3 linked regions of the Homo sapiens genome follow. The protein of the gene in region 1 interacts with the protein of each later gene in a biochemical or structural test. Each region holds a gene or a part of one and is shown in the gene's direction. Other genes may lie near its edges.

The links. Proteins that work in one complex are often made in the same cells at the same time.
Region 2: the proteins of PDLIM4 (region 1) and RASSF6 interact in a test that uses a peptide from one of them, tested with the Homo sapiens proteins (one large-scale study listed by IntAct).
Region 3: the proteins of PDLIM4 (region 1) and DGKZ interact in a test that uses a peptide from one of them, tested with the Homo sapiens proteins (one large-scale study listed by IntAct).

Annotation. Positions count from the first base shown.
Region 1 is NC_000005.10:132,263,377-132,269,272, forward strand, and holds part of PDLIM4 (PDZ and LIM domain protein 4), read left to right. Parts: intron 1-3,087; coding exon 3,088-3,169; intron 3,170-5,896.
Region 2 is NC_000004.12:73,582,359-73,587,339, reverse strand, and holds part of RASSF6 (ras association domain-containing protein 6), read left to right. Parts: intron 1-1,975; coding exon 1,976-2,160; intron 2,161-2,506; coding exon of another isoform or gene 2,507-2,521; exon of another isoform or gene 2,522-4,734; intron 4,735-4,981.
Region 3 is NC_000011.10:46,363,060-46,368,040, forward strand, and holds part of DGKZ (diacylglycerol kinase zeta), read left to right. Parts: intron 1-3,184; exon of another isoform or gene 3,185-3,197; coding exon of another isoform or gene 3,198-3,925; intron 3,926-4,231; coding exon 4,232-4,340; intron 4,341-4,592; coding exon 4,593-4,688; intron 4,689-4,942; coding exon of another isoform or gene 4,943-4,945; coding exon 4,946-4,981. UniProt on the Homo sapiens protein: Diacylglycerol kinase that converts diacylglycerol/DAG into phosphatidic acid/phosphatidate/PA and regulates the respective levels of these two bioactive lipids.

The DNA of each region.
Region 1 (5,896 bases):
TAAATCTGGATTTGGGAAAAGTTCCCACTAAGGACTGTGTAATGCTTTGCAGCCAATCAAGAAGGGGAGGACAGGGGGTTACCAAGCCCATCTGTGCTCCATAAATGATCCTGGGATAGAAGGTCCACTGGGGGTGGGGGTGGGGGGACCCAGCCTTGCTCAGGTCCTGGGTCTTTACTCAGCTCTGAGAAGCAGTTGGCCTAAGCCTGGCTGAGTGGGATCTCCCCACTCCCCTGCCCACCTTGATCCACAGAAGTCGGGCATAACTTATCAGCTCTGCCGTGTTCACTGCTGAGGGGATTTCCATGACCCCCTGTGGAAGTACGTGGGCAAAGCCTCCCCAAACCACAACACAGCTAACCATGCCTCTGAGCTGGCAGGGTGGGAGGTAAGCCACTGGCTTGGAGCCTTTAAACATGGTGGAGAGGCCTGTGAGGTCAGCCCTGTTTGTGCTTGGCCCTGGCACACGGTGAGGATGCTCCATCTTTGGAGTTCAGCAAAGCTGGTCCTCATCCAGCCTCTGGAGCCTTAGGTGCCCAGATGACCTCTATGAGCCCGGGGTTTCCTTTCCCATTAACGGATCACATTCATCACCCTCCTCCAGACTGAGATACAGGCTGGATGGGGGAAATGTCAGCATTGCTCTGCCCATGAGTGACCTCTGAAGCTTCCCCACTTGGCTGGGATCCTGGCCCCTGACTCACCTCCAGCCTTGACTCTGTGTGGCTGAACAAGGGCAGCCCTAGTGGTAGTGGAGTAGTGGGGAGGAGTGCCTCAGAGGGGGCCTGAGTCAGGAGCTTCTCAGAGTGTATGATGTCAGCGGAGGGTGGTGGGGTGGAGGTCCCCCTCCTTCTTTCCTTCCTTCCTTCCTTCCTTCCCCAGTCCTTTGTTCCAAACCAGGCATGGATGGAGCCAGAGGTCCACTGACCTGTTCCACTCTGAGCATTTCAGCCCCAAAATGTCACTGGCCATGGAGCAGATGAGAGCACATTCTCTACTATTACAGAGCTGGGTTGAGAATTATGCTCATAATTTTACCCATAAAAGAGAGAGAGGGAGAGATAACTATGCTGTGCTCCAGAAAGTGATTTAATCTCTTGAGCCCATAACTTCCTCAACCAAAAATATGGACCATCTTGCGCTCTGGACATTGAGTGATGATGTACCAGGCCTGCTCAGTCAGAGTGAAAACCTGAGTCCTGCCCTGCAGCCCCCTCACACATGCAGACTCTGGGGGATCAAGACATGAGGGCCACCTTGACTTTCTGAGCCAACATTTCTTCTCCTGGACACTTGCCCACCTGCAAGCTTTCTGACTCTGCTCCCTATCTTGCCTGCTATGCCAGGACCTATGCCTGGCCCCCAACGACACTCCTCCCCGCCCCCACCACACACACCCACACAGCAAGGGCTCTGCAGTAAATCAGCCTGTTGAGCTGGCTGGAGTGAGCTACCCTGTGCTCTCACTCCCAGGGTTCTACCCCAGACCAGCTTCCCTATCTGCCCTCTTGTGTACAGAGAGCTCTAATCCCCCCACCAACTCCCCCACAGAATGAAAAGTGTATCAAAGGCCCAGCTTCCCCACTGGGCTTCTTTTGCTTTGAGCCCAAAGCCAGGCATCCAACAATCCAAGCAAAATCACACTTCCTGGGCATGTTCTATAGGTCCAGGACCTTTCTGACATCAACTCCAACACTGAGGCCACTGATAGAGTCCCTGTTGTCCATCACATGTGGCCCAAGGTACCTTTGCACAGCCTACCCTTTGCCTGTCATTTTGTTTAAAGAGCCCAGCCTGGGATGGGGGTTGACACATGATTAAGCCCTTCATTCTGATCTGATGCATTGGGCCACATTAATGGCTCTGGGTACTTTGTGCCCTTCGACCTTAGACGTCAGGCTTGTACTGCTCTTCTGGGCAGAACTTCAGGGAAGTTGAAGGCCAAATAGCCACACAAGATGTCCCAGCTTTATCCCAGAGGAGTTCTGAGTAGATAGAGGCCACAGTTAGAGCTGTGAGTTAGGGTACCCACTTGGGAGCCTGGTTGAGGGGGCTAGAGACAGGGACTATGGGGCTGGTGTTGCCCTGGGGCAGCAGAGCTCTAATACCAAAGGCCTGGAGTAGAGAGGTAGCCTCCAAGGGACTAAGGAATGGGCAGAGGCGAGGAAGTGCAGAGTGAGTATGGACCATAGGCATAGATAGATTATTAAAACCCTCAACTGAAGGGGGCAGAAGAGGCAGGGGCAAGCTGCTAGGTCAGTAATGAGACCTTGAGAAGCCTCAGGAGGCTTCGTGGGGTGAGTTGGAGGGCATTATTCCCCTTTGGTCTAACCAGCCTCACCTCATACCCACCTGCCAGTCCAGGGTCCATGCCCCTTCCTGGCCTGCCTTCTCACAGGGCTACTGAGTGACAGGGCTGGGCCTTAGGCACGTAGCCTCTCGGCCTGCCTGCCCTGCTTATGGCAGGTTTATGATGTTTTTCTCCCTCCTGAGTGGTGTTTGGCTTTTGGTTTCTATGGCGAAGCAGGAATTTCCTAATGGCCTGTTTCCCATCTGGGCTGGGCAGACTCAGTGATGACTCTGCCGGCAGCAGCAGCAGGAGGAAAGACACACCCCTCAGAGCCTCCATTCCACCTACCCCAGAGCCGACGGACGCCTGACCCCACACCCCACCAGAGGCTGTAGATGCCCAGAGGATGCGTGGATAGGCTTCTAGCTGGTCAATGTGTGAGGCCTGGCTTGCAGTGCTATAAGCTGGGCCTCTTTGAGCTGAGCTTCTGTAGGCCACGAAGAGGGTGGAAGATTAGGGAAGACACAGGGCTTCTCCTGCAGCCTCTCCAGGAACCAGACTAGAGAGGGATTGGGCAGCCGATGGGGACAGAAGCATATAGCCCTACCCCAGGAGGATGGCAGCTAGAGTTGTGGCTCATTGCCACAACAGTCACCATTGTGGTACAGGGGAAAGCACTGGAGTGGTGTTCTTCTACCTGCAGGGCACAGCCCAGAGCCCAGCCCCTCTTGATCCTGGCTCCCAGGCATGGTGGGCGTGGTAGGAGACATATCTGACCATCACAATTTCTGCCACAGGCCTGAGGGTAGGAGCTGGCCCAGTGCCCCTGATGACAGCAAGGCTCAGGCACACAGGATCCACATCGATCCTGAGATCCAGGTATGTACAGACACTGCCTGGCCTGGCCTGGCTCAGAGTGAGCCCAGGGCAGAGGGGCCAGCATGCAGGTTCACCTGCACTGAATGTCCTCACTGGGGCTCTCAGATACCCAAGACAGAGACTGAAGCAGAAGTTTTCTCTGGACCACATCCATACCCCATCCCATGTTCCTCAGATGATGAGCACCTGGTGTGGGCTCTGTCTCTACTCCGGGCAATCCTGGATTCTGGACCAAGGTGCCTATGATGTCCAGGATCTGGGCTAGGCCTTGGTTTGCGGCTATCACACAGCCAGCTGGAGTTCACTCTGGTGCTCAGTGATGCCAGACCAGAAAGAAGTCACTGTGCTTGCAGCGGGGGAGATTGGTGGCAGTCTCAGGCTGTGGAGTGACCTCAGGCTATGGGACACTCCTCTGAGTGCCCTATCCAAGCCTGAAGTTCTCTCCTGGCCATCCTGTGGTGCTTCTAGCAGAACTTAGGCTGCAGGCCTGTCTGCCCAGTCACCTTTCTGTGTGTGATAGAAGTCATATCTCTGGTCCTGTCCTCAAGAAGAGTGAGGGGGTCAGGCTATTCTAGGGCCTTGTTTTGCCATGGCATAAGGAGTAGCCAAGTGGGGATGACTGAGGTATCCAGAGCCATCTCTGGGCCACAGAGTTTGGGCAAGGAGACTGGGATGGTCTGTGATGGAGCCAGAACCATGGGACCCAGCATGTGGGACCATTGCCTCCTGGGCCTGCCTTTGTCCACCCTCTCAACATGAAAGAAAAGGGGCCAAGGCAGGGAGAGGCTTCACTGAACCAGAGGGAAGGATGTGCCCCAGCTTCTCCCTCACTATCTACCCCAATCCCATCTTGCTCTATTCCCTACCCTGCCTGGCTGGCATCCCTGGAGCCAGATGCTTACCACCTTCCAGGCAGTGCCCATTCTGGCAGGGGAAAGGCACTTAGAAGTTCTGGGCTAGGGGAAGCCAGGGGCCAAAGGAGCCCAGAGTAGTCACATGACTCAGACAAGGAGTCAAGGAGTGCTTCCTGGAGGAAGGGGTATTGAAGCCAAGACCTGAAGGGCTAGGAATGGTAAGGCAGGCAAAGGGGTATAGGGAGAGGAAGTGTGGCCCAGAGGTGAGGTCTTGCACCACAAGTTCAGAGAAAAGAAAGGTCCAGGGGAAGGGAGGACAAGATGGAAGGAGTGAGAGGACAGAGGTGAGAGATGAGGTGGTGGAGCAGGGCCACAGAAAGGCTCTTGGGCTTCTCTATCCTGGACCTCAGCTGTTCTTACAGGGATTCATGGCCACATCTGTGTCTCAGAAACTTGCTCTGATGGCCCCATGGACCCCAGACCTTAGGGGTAGGGGTACATGTTGCCATAGACAAATGAGCCAGGTTTGCCACAGGCCAGGCAGAGGGGAGCAGCAGGGTGTGGGCCTCAAGCTCATGCATGAGGCCCAGCCTCCCTCAGAGGTAGCAGTGCCAGGATGACGTGGTGGGGAGGGGGTTCAGTCTTCCAGGAGAGGCTCAGGGCCGGTGGGCCTGGGAGGCTGGCGACTGTAGAGCAGCTCCCCCTGCCCCCACACTTGTTCTCATTGACTCCCTTGAAGACCAGGCTGCCAGTGGCTCAGACTGGAGAAGGAGGGAGTTTCCACAAGCACCAGGGCAGCCCCTCAGCTGCTGCCCCACTTTTGTACTTAAAAGGTCATGGGCTCCATGGGTGGTGACAAAAACACCCCCACCCCACCCCTGCAGGGCTGAGTCCTTGCTAACACAGACACAGGGCCCATTGTCCCCATGCTGCTCCCACCCTCTGCCTGAGTGGGGGTGTTGGGGAGGGGGTGGAGCTAGCTGGAGCCATCGAGGAGGAGGAAACCACAGTTGGCCCTAGGACCAGCACAAGGTGCCCTGGCACACATCCCCGAGTGGGATGGGACAGGGCCAGCTGGAACTTCAGGCCCACCTTCCCTGTGGGGCGATAGGAGAACCTCCTTCTCTCAGGCCTCTTGTGGGAACACAGGAGGCACTTGGCCTAGCCCAGGGTGGAGGAAGGATAGTAACTTATTACTATCCTTCTGGGTTAGTAGGGTTTTCTGGAAGGAGTGGCAATTATGCTCAGAACCAGGTGATGGGGAGAAGCAAGTCAGGTGGAGCAGGCAGTCCTTGCACACTCAGCCTGTCCTCCCCAGACCAGCAGAGAGCTAGAACTGAGCCTCTAGGAGATGGCACCTGCTCATCTGGACTCAGCGCCTGCCTCCATCCAAGTTGAGTGTCCCAAAGCAGGTAGTTACCCCCATCCTGCTGAAAAATCCACTGAGGCTTCAACAACCAAGTGGGCAGCAGGCTGGTTCTCAGAGCAGAGGAGCATATGGTACGAGGTGTACCACCCACAGAGGGGGAAAATACAGGACTGGGGGCCCAGGAATTCCCCTGACAGCCATTCATCCAACAAGTATGTGCTTTATGCCAGGCACTATGCAATTGTCTTATTTCATCTCCACAAGGAACCTGATGTGGAAAGCATCACATTCCCCAGCTCATAGATAAAGAAACAGGTTCAGAGAGGTGAAGAGACTTGCCCAGTTAGGGGATAACCCTGGGACTCAAACTAAAACTGAGGTAGCCATGTGTGTCCTAGCCACAGAGTTCAGGCCTAGAGAGGCAGCTGCATGGGTGACCGTGGGAGGGGCAGTGGCTCTGATGGCCCTGCAGTGGACCCCTGCACCCTGCTGGGTAGGGGTGAG
Region 2 (4,981 bases), on another chromosome or scaffold:
TTCAGAGATCTTTTTAAAAGAGAAATATACTTAAGGATCAAATGGATCCATACTGAACTTGGCAAACCAATGGGAAATGCCAGCTCCAGGGATGTGTGACATTAGTAGTTATAATCATAATGGTGATGATGTGAGAGTAATAATAGTGATATTGATAGCTGTAATCTGATGAGACTCTGGTAAGTATCAGGCATAATATTTTGTACTTTATATGAATTTTTTCATGTAATTCTCATAAACACATAAGATTCAAAGAGTAGTGGATGCTGATGACTGAAGCTAGAATGAGGGGTGGTGGACAGGGTTCATGTGCCTGAAATGGGGCTGTGATTTACGAAGTCAGTTCAGTGTGAACAAAGGTATCCCACTAGCATTAACTTCATAAGCCTACCAGCAACTTGCAATGTTTGTTCTCTTTTTTTTTTTTTCAAATCATTCTCAATTCTGCCTCGTCTGCTATTCCACAGGAACCCAGATCCTGTGACAAACATGATGTTCCTTCCAGGGTTCCCTTTTCTCTTTATGCCATGGGATCTTTACATCTTGTTAAATATCGGCCCTTCCAATTATCTTTTAGAAATATATATGAAACCCAAGGAAATCCCAGTATCTTGGCATCAAAGACATCATAAAAATATATTTGTATTTAAACAGCAGTGCTAGAGAAGGAAGAAATATCTCATGCCTATTTGATAATGTTCTAATTACAGTAGAAAATTTTTTAAAATCCTAAAGTAAAATAAAACACAAATGCCACCACATGGTCTTATTCTTACATATGAATATGCATAGGAGAGGAAATTGAAAAAGGTACTATCAATTGTATACAAGCAGAAAGGGGGGCAGAAGGCAGGTTTGAATCTTCTGCATCTTAGGCTAGTAACACATTGTAGCTCAATTCAATTCCATTTAAACACCTTCTGCCTACTCAATAGATACTAGAGTTGTTCAACGCTACACTATAATTTTATACTCTAAAATCTGCTATAGAAATTGTAATAATTCAGTAACCAAATTTTGACTAATCAATTATGAATCATTGTTAAATATACATGACTCAATGAGAAGAAATAATAGGATAGTGGACAACTAAGTGAAAAAGTCATTCATATCATACATCTGGAATGTTCTAAAAAGAACATAATGTGATATATTACAAATAGTAGGACTAGTCCAAAGCATACTATTCCTTTTGCTTTTATAAAAGATGGGAACAAAATCTTTCAATGCTCCACATACCATATAAATAGCTTCTCAAAGAGCTTTCTGTAGTTTTATAGGAAAACTAAGGCCCAGTGTTTATTTTTTAGGAAAAGCTCCAAAGAACTTGGGCCAACATATAATGGGGTGGGGGGAGGGGGGAGGGATAGCATTAGGAGATATACCTAATGCTAAATGACGAGTTAATGGGTGCAGCACACCAGCATGGCACATGTATACATATGTAACTAACCTGCACATTGTGCACATTACCCTAAAACTTAAAGTATAATAATAATAAAATAAAAATAAAAATAAAAAAATAAGGATCCAGACCTGATTCTATCATTTATGAGTACTATGTCCATAGGAAAGCCACTTCAACTCACTGTACTTTTTCTTACCTGTAAGAGATCAAACCTGATAAAGTATCAGGTTTATTCCAGCTCTAACACTCTGAAATGCCACAAAATGCACTCCCCAATAAATTAAGATTAAAGGAATGCCCAAACCCCAAACATGATCATTGTGATCATTTCTTATGAAACATAAGAATGAGACATAAGAATTTTATATGAGATACTGGCAGAATTTGCTGAGTCAGTCTCAGGCAACATTTAATAAGTAAATATGCAGCTAAGCAGTGGACTATAATGCTTTTACACAGCCAGAAAATAGCAATATTCCTAAAATTAATGAAAGCATACACAAATCCACTCAGGATGCTAGGACACAGGCAGCTGAATGATATGAGCTTATAATCTATTCTTCCCAGACTATTTATCTTATCACAGCAACACCCTGAAGCCACATGCAAAGGATGAACCAGACTCCCCAGTGCTCTATAGAACCATGAGTGAAGCAGCTCTGGTGAGAAAAAGGATGAAGCCTCTGATGATGGACAGAAAAGAAAGACAGAAAAATAGAGCCTCTATTAATGGACACTTCTATAACCATGAAGTAAGTGAGTTACAATTCCATTAATGTAATATAAAATAAGGTTCCCTGTTTCACTAACAATACCACCCAATTCAATTCACAATTTAAAGTCATAATAATAACAGTAGCATGTCTAACATCTTGGGGGCACTCTCTATGTGCTAGATATTAAAGTAAATGTGTTTTAAATAGATTTTTACTGAATTATCTTATTAATCACTAAAACAATCCTATGAAATAGGTACCATTATTTTCTTTACTTGACATATAAGCTAATTGAGGCTTATGGAGATTAAGCAATTTGTCTTAGATTATGCTACTCTTAAGTAGTAACTCTCAACCTGAACCCAGCTTTGTCTGACTCCAGAACACAAGTTTTTAACCACCATGATGGGTGAACTCTATCACTGTGCCAAGTATTAAAAACATGCAGATGAGGCAGCCGATGTCTCAGCCAGCACGGAGCTCAGGGATTGAGCAGGGAAACCAACATACCAACAATAATACTGGAATAATGTAAGTGCTACAAAGTGGTTGGATCAAAGGACATTTGAACGTGAACATTTAAATAAAAGGAAAAAGCCACAGGCCAATTTATTCCAATAAATCAAACTTCTCATGTTGCCATGTTCCAGGTCTTTTACCTATACACATACCGTTTTTATATAAGTGTAGTTGTAGTTTAGATACAATTCACATTCTGCTTTTTCACTGAATATGTGTTAAATTTATATGTGCCTTTCCATAGTGCTTGTAAGACATTACATTTTGCTGAAGGTAGGAAATATATCATCATTTTTTTCCAGAACTCAAATATTTTTCATGTGATGTACTTTAGCAATCATTCATCGCTCCATCTCATAAATACTTAGCACTTACACTGTGCCAGGTATCTTCTGAGGCCTTTAATAAGAAATAGGAACTCATTGCTTTGTAGGCTTTTTCCTGTAAGGATTTCTACTTTATTTCTTCTTCTTCTACCCTTGGGGGGTAACGATAGTGTGTCTTTGGAGCCTGGTGGGGAGAAATCTCTCTTCTCAATTATTTATTCATATCAGAATTTTAGGGTTCCAGAATCATTCTCATAGCTATAAAGTAGCATTGATAGTCCCCCACAGAGAGGTACCTACCAATTGTCCTGTTTCCCTCTTCACAGAAATTGTGTTGTATGTCATTATCTTGTGGGGTAATTTGTGTTGAAGAAGGAAAGCCACATTGCTCCAAGCAAGTGGCTTTCAGATTGGATCACTTGTGCTGGAAATGAAATTGACACTAGGTTGGCAGCACGGAATGGTGGTTAAATGCTTGGGCCCTGGAGCTTGACAGCCTGGTTTTACATTCTTGCTGAGCAAGTTTCATTCTTCTTACTTTACAAGGCTGTTGATGGGATGGAATGAAATGAGGTAAGTTCAGCATAAGAATAGTACCTGGCACAAAAGAACTCGGTCTACATTAGCTTATGTTGTTGCTGTTGATTGAATGAGCTCAAGCTGGGACTATAGATATTTTACACAAATGTCATTCACTGCAATTTAATAACTAGCAGAAAACAATACAAACAAAAAAGAAAAAACAAAGCATTCTATCAACAATTATACAATGACGGACATCTAGGAATTTTAGTGGATATGTTTCTTAAGTTGCTGTGTGTCGTAAGATATGTTTTTATACTATGAAGCCCCTTGTTAATGCCAATATTGTTAGGCTATGAATAACACACATATTAAAGGCTTAGATTGTCATATCTGGAGATTAGTTATGGTGAATATAACTTGACCAGTAGTATATTTCTATCAATGTGATAGTAAATGATAGCAGGTTTCATTATATGTTTTGGCCAACACAACTGATATAAAGACTATAGATTTAAATACTGCTCTGAAAAACAAATTCACTATATGTTGACATTTTAGAAGAGCTCTTAGAGATTAGTCTTACTATCTTATTTTATAAATGAAGTCATTTATCAAATATATGTTAAGTGAGTCAATAAAGATGTTAAATGAGTTGACAAAGTTGGAGTTCGTGGGCATTTAGTGGGCACTAAAATCTAGGTCTCCTGAATGGTAATCCATGTTATTGTCATAGTGCATGAAGCTTCTTCACATAAACAACATCAAACCACGTGTACAACATATCATATTCACCTTAGCGCAGGATGAACATGTGGTTTTTCAGGGCTCCATAGAAATCGTAAATGTCACAGAATAACTTATCAATGCTCTAAAATGTCTACAAATATTGAATTTTCTCATACTTATAAAAGTTTATCCTAGACACTCTCCACACATCTTCTCAGAAAACTTATTTACATATCCACATTTTTACTCACACAAATGCCGTGTGTGTGTGTGTGCGTGTTACATGTGTGGGTGTTATAAATGTTTGTGTCTGTATACTTTGATGTTAATTTACTGATCTCTCAATATAGGACTTATCTTTTTAACAGTCCAATGAGCCACCCCAAAACCCACCCATCTCTACATCTGCTGAACCCACCCCATTTCTACAGAGCCTTGGAATACTTGGAGATTGTGCATATAAATAAAATATGTGGAAATAAATCCTTACTTAATATCTCTATCCGTTTTTAAATATGCATCTGGTGACATTCTTTCTTACTTATTTTGAAATCTTAAACTGCACTAAAGAGGGGTGTAATTGTCCAGTGAAAATGTTATAAGCATCCTCAAATGGTGTTTTACCTAATTTACTCTAGAAACAATATAAAGCTGCTTAAAAGAACACATAATATTCAAAAACAACAAAGAAAAACAAACAAAAACAAAACAAATTTTTTAAATTAATGACCTTGGATTTTTTTTGCCCTATAAGAAGATTA
Region 3 (4,981 bases), on another chromosome or scaffold:
GGTGACCTTTACACGTACTGTGTGGCGAGGTGGAGGTGACCAAGAGCACGAGGTGAGAAGACACTGTCACGCAGAGCTGCGCTATGGGAGAGGCTTAGGCCCAGGGCGGGCTCCAACAAGGCCCAGGAGAAGCCCCAGCAGAGATAGGAAGTGAGGAGTCAGGCTCTTGCTGACCAGGGACAGAGGTTTCTATGGAGACCAGAGGAACAGGAAACTCAGGCCTGCGGGGAGGGGCATGGGAGCACGGAGGCATGGGTGCCCAGCAGGAGAGCCTGTGACAAATTGTCAGCTCAGCCACTCTGACAGCCTCCCCAGACACACAGGGAAACTGAGGCCCGTGAGGGGCCAACTTGCACACAGTCACACAGCACTGCCGGCCTTGCCCACCCCACTCTGCTGGGAGGGGCGGCATCATCGGCCGCCGAGGAGACTCCTGGACAGATGTGGACCTGGGCTGCCTGGCAGTGTGTGGAGCCGGGCACCACAGGAGCTCCTGTAAGCCGCCCTTGTCTCTCGAGGGGGTCCTGGCCCCTGTTGTCAGTGCAGGTCTGGGGCCGCAAGCTGGGCTCAGCCCTCACCGCTGCCCACGGGTGCAGCGGCACCTCCCCCCACTGACTGTGGCCTTTTGTTTTCTGGGTGACAGTAGCATCAGGCGGTGTGTCCGGGTGACTAATCTCCTCCAGGCTGGGCAGCTGTCACAGGGCGGCCTGACCAGGCAGGCAGGAAAGCTGACACCCTGGGGAGGGCTGGCAGGCCGGTGCCCTGACGGCAGGGGGCAGTTGGGCCTTCAGGCTCCTCTTCCCCTGACACAAAGCAGGCCCCAGGTCGGGAAGACCCGGGTTCAGGTCCCGAATGCCGCTGACTGGCCGTGGGACTGTGGCATGTTACTGGCCCTCTTGAAGCCTCAGTTTCCCCATCTCTAGAATGGAGCTGCAGGTCCTGCTTACCTCACAGGGCTGTGGTGAGGATTACACGAGATGATAAAGTACTTAGCCCAGGGCCTGTCACGTAGCAGGTGTTCGTTATTATTCCCTATCTGGTTCCCTTTCCTACCCCATCCCAGCCTCATGTTCCAGGAGGAAGGACCCTGCAACCCACCCCATTTCTGGGACGCAGGCTTTGCCGTTAGGTAGACTTGGACTCCAGCACTGACTCCACACTGACTTGCCGTGGACTCTAGGCGGTCACCTCTGCGTCAACTTCCTCATCAGGAATGCAGTGTGATGCAGTACCTATTCCTTGGGGTTGCAGTTTATGAAATGATCTAAGTGTTTGTCAGGGGCTTAGCACAGTGCCTGACACATAGGGGCTCAGTAAATGTCAGCCGTGACACTGGTGATTTTGGGGGAGACCCAGCGCTCTCCACCCATGCCTGCTGTCCTGCCCCTGCAGCTCCCTCCGGCCCAGGTGGTCTGCTTTGAGTGGGGCACTATTTGGGGTCATAAGAGCACTGCCCTGACCTCCCTGTCATCTGAGGCAGCTGGAAACTCCAATAGGCAGAGACCAAGAGCTGAGCTGTGCAGAACTCTGCTTCCCTAGGCACCTCCACCCTGTCCATCTCTCCCCCAACACCCCTGTACCTGGCCTGAAGCTGCTCAAGACCTGCAGGGCAGTAGCAAATCAGTGCAGTGTATGGAAGGAGAAGGTGCTAGACGTGCGGCCTGGGCCTGACTCCTCCAGCCCTTCATCTTTGCCTTCATCCTTCCTCCTGCCCAACATGCGTCCAGGGCATCACCCACCATGCCTAATTAATGCCAGCCTTCAGGGGACCACAGGGCTTCTTCTGTCAGCCCCAGGCAGCACTGTCCCAGGGCTGTGACCTTGACCTCTGTGGCTGCCAGCGGTTAGGATGCATCCCCCACCAGTCTCTCCCCAGGACCAGGGCCCAGGAGATCACCTGCTGTGGGGCACAGGTGGCCTCAGGTACCTGGAGGCATCGCCAGCCTGATCCATGCCAGGCAGGCTGCCCTTCCCCCACTGTTAGGAGAGGTAGGGCACAGGAGCTCGATGCTGGCTGTGAAGAAGGGTAGGCAGGGCTGAGGTGAGCTGGCAGAGGGAGCAAAGCATGAGTTCAGGATGGGTCCATGGAGGCCAGGTCCAGGTGGGAGCTAGGATGATGCCCACAGCTCCTGCCTGCCTGCAGGAGGGAGCTCTGGGCTGTGCAGCGTTTGGAATTGTGAGTATGGGGGCTTCCAGCATCAGGGCCGCAGAAGAATGTGCAGTCACAGGCTCCATCAGGAGCAGAGTCAGAAGGGTTTCCCGGCATCACCCAGCTTCACCCTGGGGTATCCGTACTTTGTCCCTTCAGAAAGGTGAGACAGAGCAGTCGAGCACCAGAAAGTTCTTACCATCAGCACTTCAGACATACAGGCACGCACACACCCAGAATCCAGAAGGCTTTGCTTTTGGCCCAAGCCTATTGTCACGGCCCCCTGGGTGTGAAGGGAGACTGAGCAGCCTCTCTCCCAGGAGAGCCAGACAGTGACTCTCCAGTTCCCTGAGACCTGGTCTCCCCTGAGCTACACATTAGACCCTCTCTATTTCCAGGAGTCACCTTCAGCCTGACCCCAAGGCTATGGGCTGAGAGACTCTGGGGGTCCTGTCAGGATTAAGTTCCTTTGCAGAGAGCCTCATTTTGTTATAGCTTGGTTTGCTCCATGTCCCATGAGGGGACACCTAACCTGCCCCCACCATGTTGGTGGCAAAACAAAGGCCCAGCAAGTGGGAAGCCCTGCCCTGGGCCCCACCGTCCATCCAGGCAGACCGACTCCCCATTTTCTTTTTGTTTTCTTTTCCATCAGCTTCCGGCAGGGCAGGTGGAGGCCTTTAGGCCCAGAGCTCTGTAGATTCTGGTGCCTGGATGGGGGAAGAAGGGGTAGCCTGAAGCACCCACCTCCCTGGGACTCCAGGGCTCCCTAGGGTGCAATGGGGGAGAGCATCAGTGCCCCAACAGCTGTAAACGTGGGCTCCCCTGAGCACCCCTGGGATCCTCACATGGAGGTCAGAGGCTGCAGTGACCCCTCCCTCCCTCAGGGGTTGCTTCCCTTCTCATGGGGCAGAGGCTGTGAATGGGCTCCTGGTTGCTTCCCTTCTCATGGGGCAGAGGCTGTGAATGGGCTCCCGGACACAGGACAGACCGTGGCCTGATCCAGCTCCTGATGCTCCCGGTCTCTGTGCCCAACAGCCAACCGCCTGCCATGGAGACTTTCTTTAGGAGACATTTCCGGGGGAAGGTGCCAGGCCCTGGAGAGGGGCAGCAGCGGCCCAGCAGCGTGGGGCTGCCCACAGGCAAGGCCCGGCGTCGCTCCCCCGCTGGGCAGGCCTCCTCCTCACTGGCACAGCGGCGCCGCTCCAGCGCCCAGCTCCAGGGCTGCCTCCTGAGTTGCGGGGTGAGGGCCCAGGGTTCCAGCCGCCGGCGCTCCAGCACTGTGCCCCCTTCCTGCAACCCCCGCTTCATCGTGGATAAGGTGCTCACTCCACAGCCTACCACCGTGGGGGCCCAGCTTCTGGGTGCACCCCTGCTGTTGACCGGGCTTGTGGGCATGAATGAGGAGGAGGGTGTCCAGGAGGATGTGGTAGCCGAGGCATCGAGCGCCATCCAGCCAGGCACCAAGACACCAGGGCCACCCCCACCTCGGGGCGCCCAGCCGCTGTTGCCCCTACCCCGCTACCTGCGCCGAGCCTCCTCCCACCTGCTCCCCGCGGATGCCGTATATGACCACGCTCTCTGGGGCCTGCACGGCTACTATCGGCGCCTCAGCCAGCGGCGGCCCTCAGGCCAGCACCCTGGCCCTGGGGGCCGAAGAGCCTCAGGCACCACCGCCGGCACCATGCTGCCCACCCGTGTGCGCCCACTGTCCCGCAGGCGCCAGGTAGCCCTACGGCGCAAGGCGGCCGGACCCCAGGCCTGGAGCGCCCTGCTCGCGTAGGTATAGCTGTGGCCAGCAGGGCGAGTGGTGTGACCTCCTGTGGGTCTGGCCTGGGCATGGGCCTTGAAGCTCTGCCTGGCTGAGGGTTCCCCACTTGGGAACACTCTGGGCAGTACCCTGAAGCCAGCGTACCCCAAAAGGCCATGTCTCTTGCAGGGAGCCTCTTAGTGTCTGGGGCTGCTGGGAGGCTCCTCCGCCCTCCCTGTTGCCGAGGTCACGGAAAGGGCAGAGGCCCCAGGAGGTGGGAGGAAGTAGGGTCAGCAAGTGCTCAGCCCCCTCCTCAGCTGTCTTCTCCTCTCTAGGAAAGCCATCACCAAGTCGGGCCTCCAGCACCTGGCCCCCCCTCCGCCCACCCCTGGGGCCCCGTGCAGCGAGTCAGAGCGGCAGATCCGGAGTACAGTGGACTGGAGCGTGAGTGCCTGAACACCCCTGGGTCCCAGACCCTCTGGGCTCTTGGCCAAGGCGCAGCTGGCGGGTGGAGGCACTAAAGGCAGCTGGGAGAGCCAAGCCTGGAAGGGTTGGGACAGTGGGGCAGACGGAACAGAGCAGGGTCGATCGGGGCGCTGGAGTGGGTTTGTCTTGGGAGAGGGCGGGTGGGCGGGGGCTGATGGGAGGGAGGGCTGGGCGGCCAGCGTGTGCTGAGCAAGCCCATCCCGTGGCTAGGAGTCAGCGACATATGGGGAGCACATCTGGTTCGAGACCAACGTGTCCGGGGACTTCTGCTACGTTGGGGAGCAGTACTGTGTAGCCAGGATGCTGGTGAGTGCTCGTAGGGGCACGCCGCCCCCTGCTGGTGGAGCCAGTAGCCGCAGCCCTTCCGGGAACGTGGGATTGAGCCCGCTCCCTGGCACCCCTGCTGTGGGCCGCCCCAGGATGGTGAGGGGTGCAGGGGCTTTGTCCGGATGCCAGGACTGGGGCTTCCCAGTGCACACAAAGGGCAGCTGTGCTGGGGCAGGCAGCCTCCGAGATAGACTTACCTGGTGCCTCAGGGGCCCTCTCTTCCTGTCCTGCAGCAGAAGTCAGTGTCTCGAAGAAAGTGCGCAGCCTGCAAG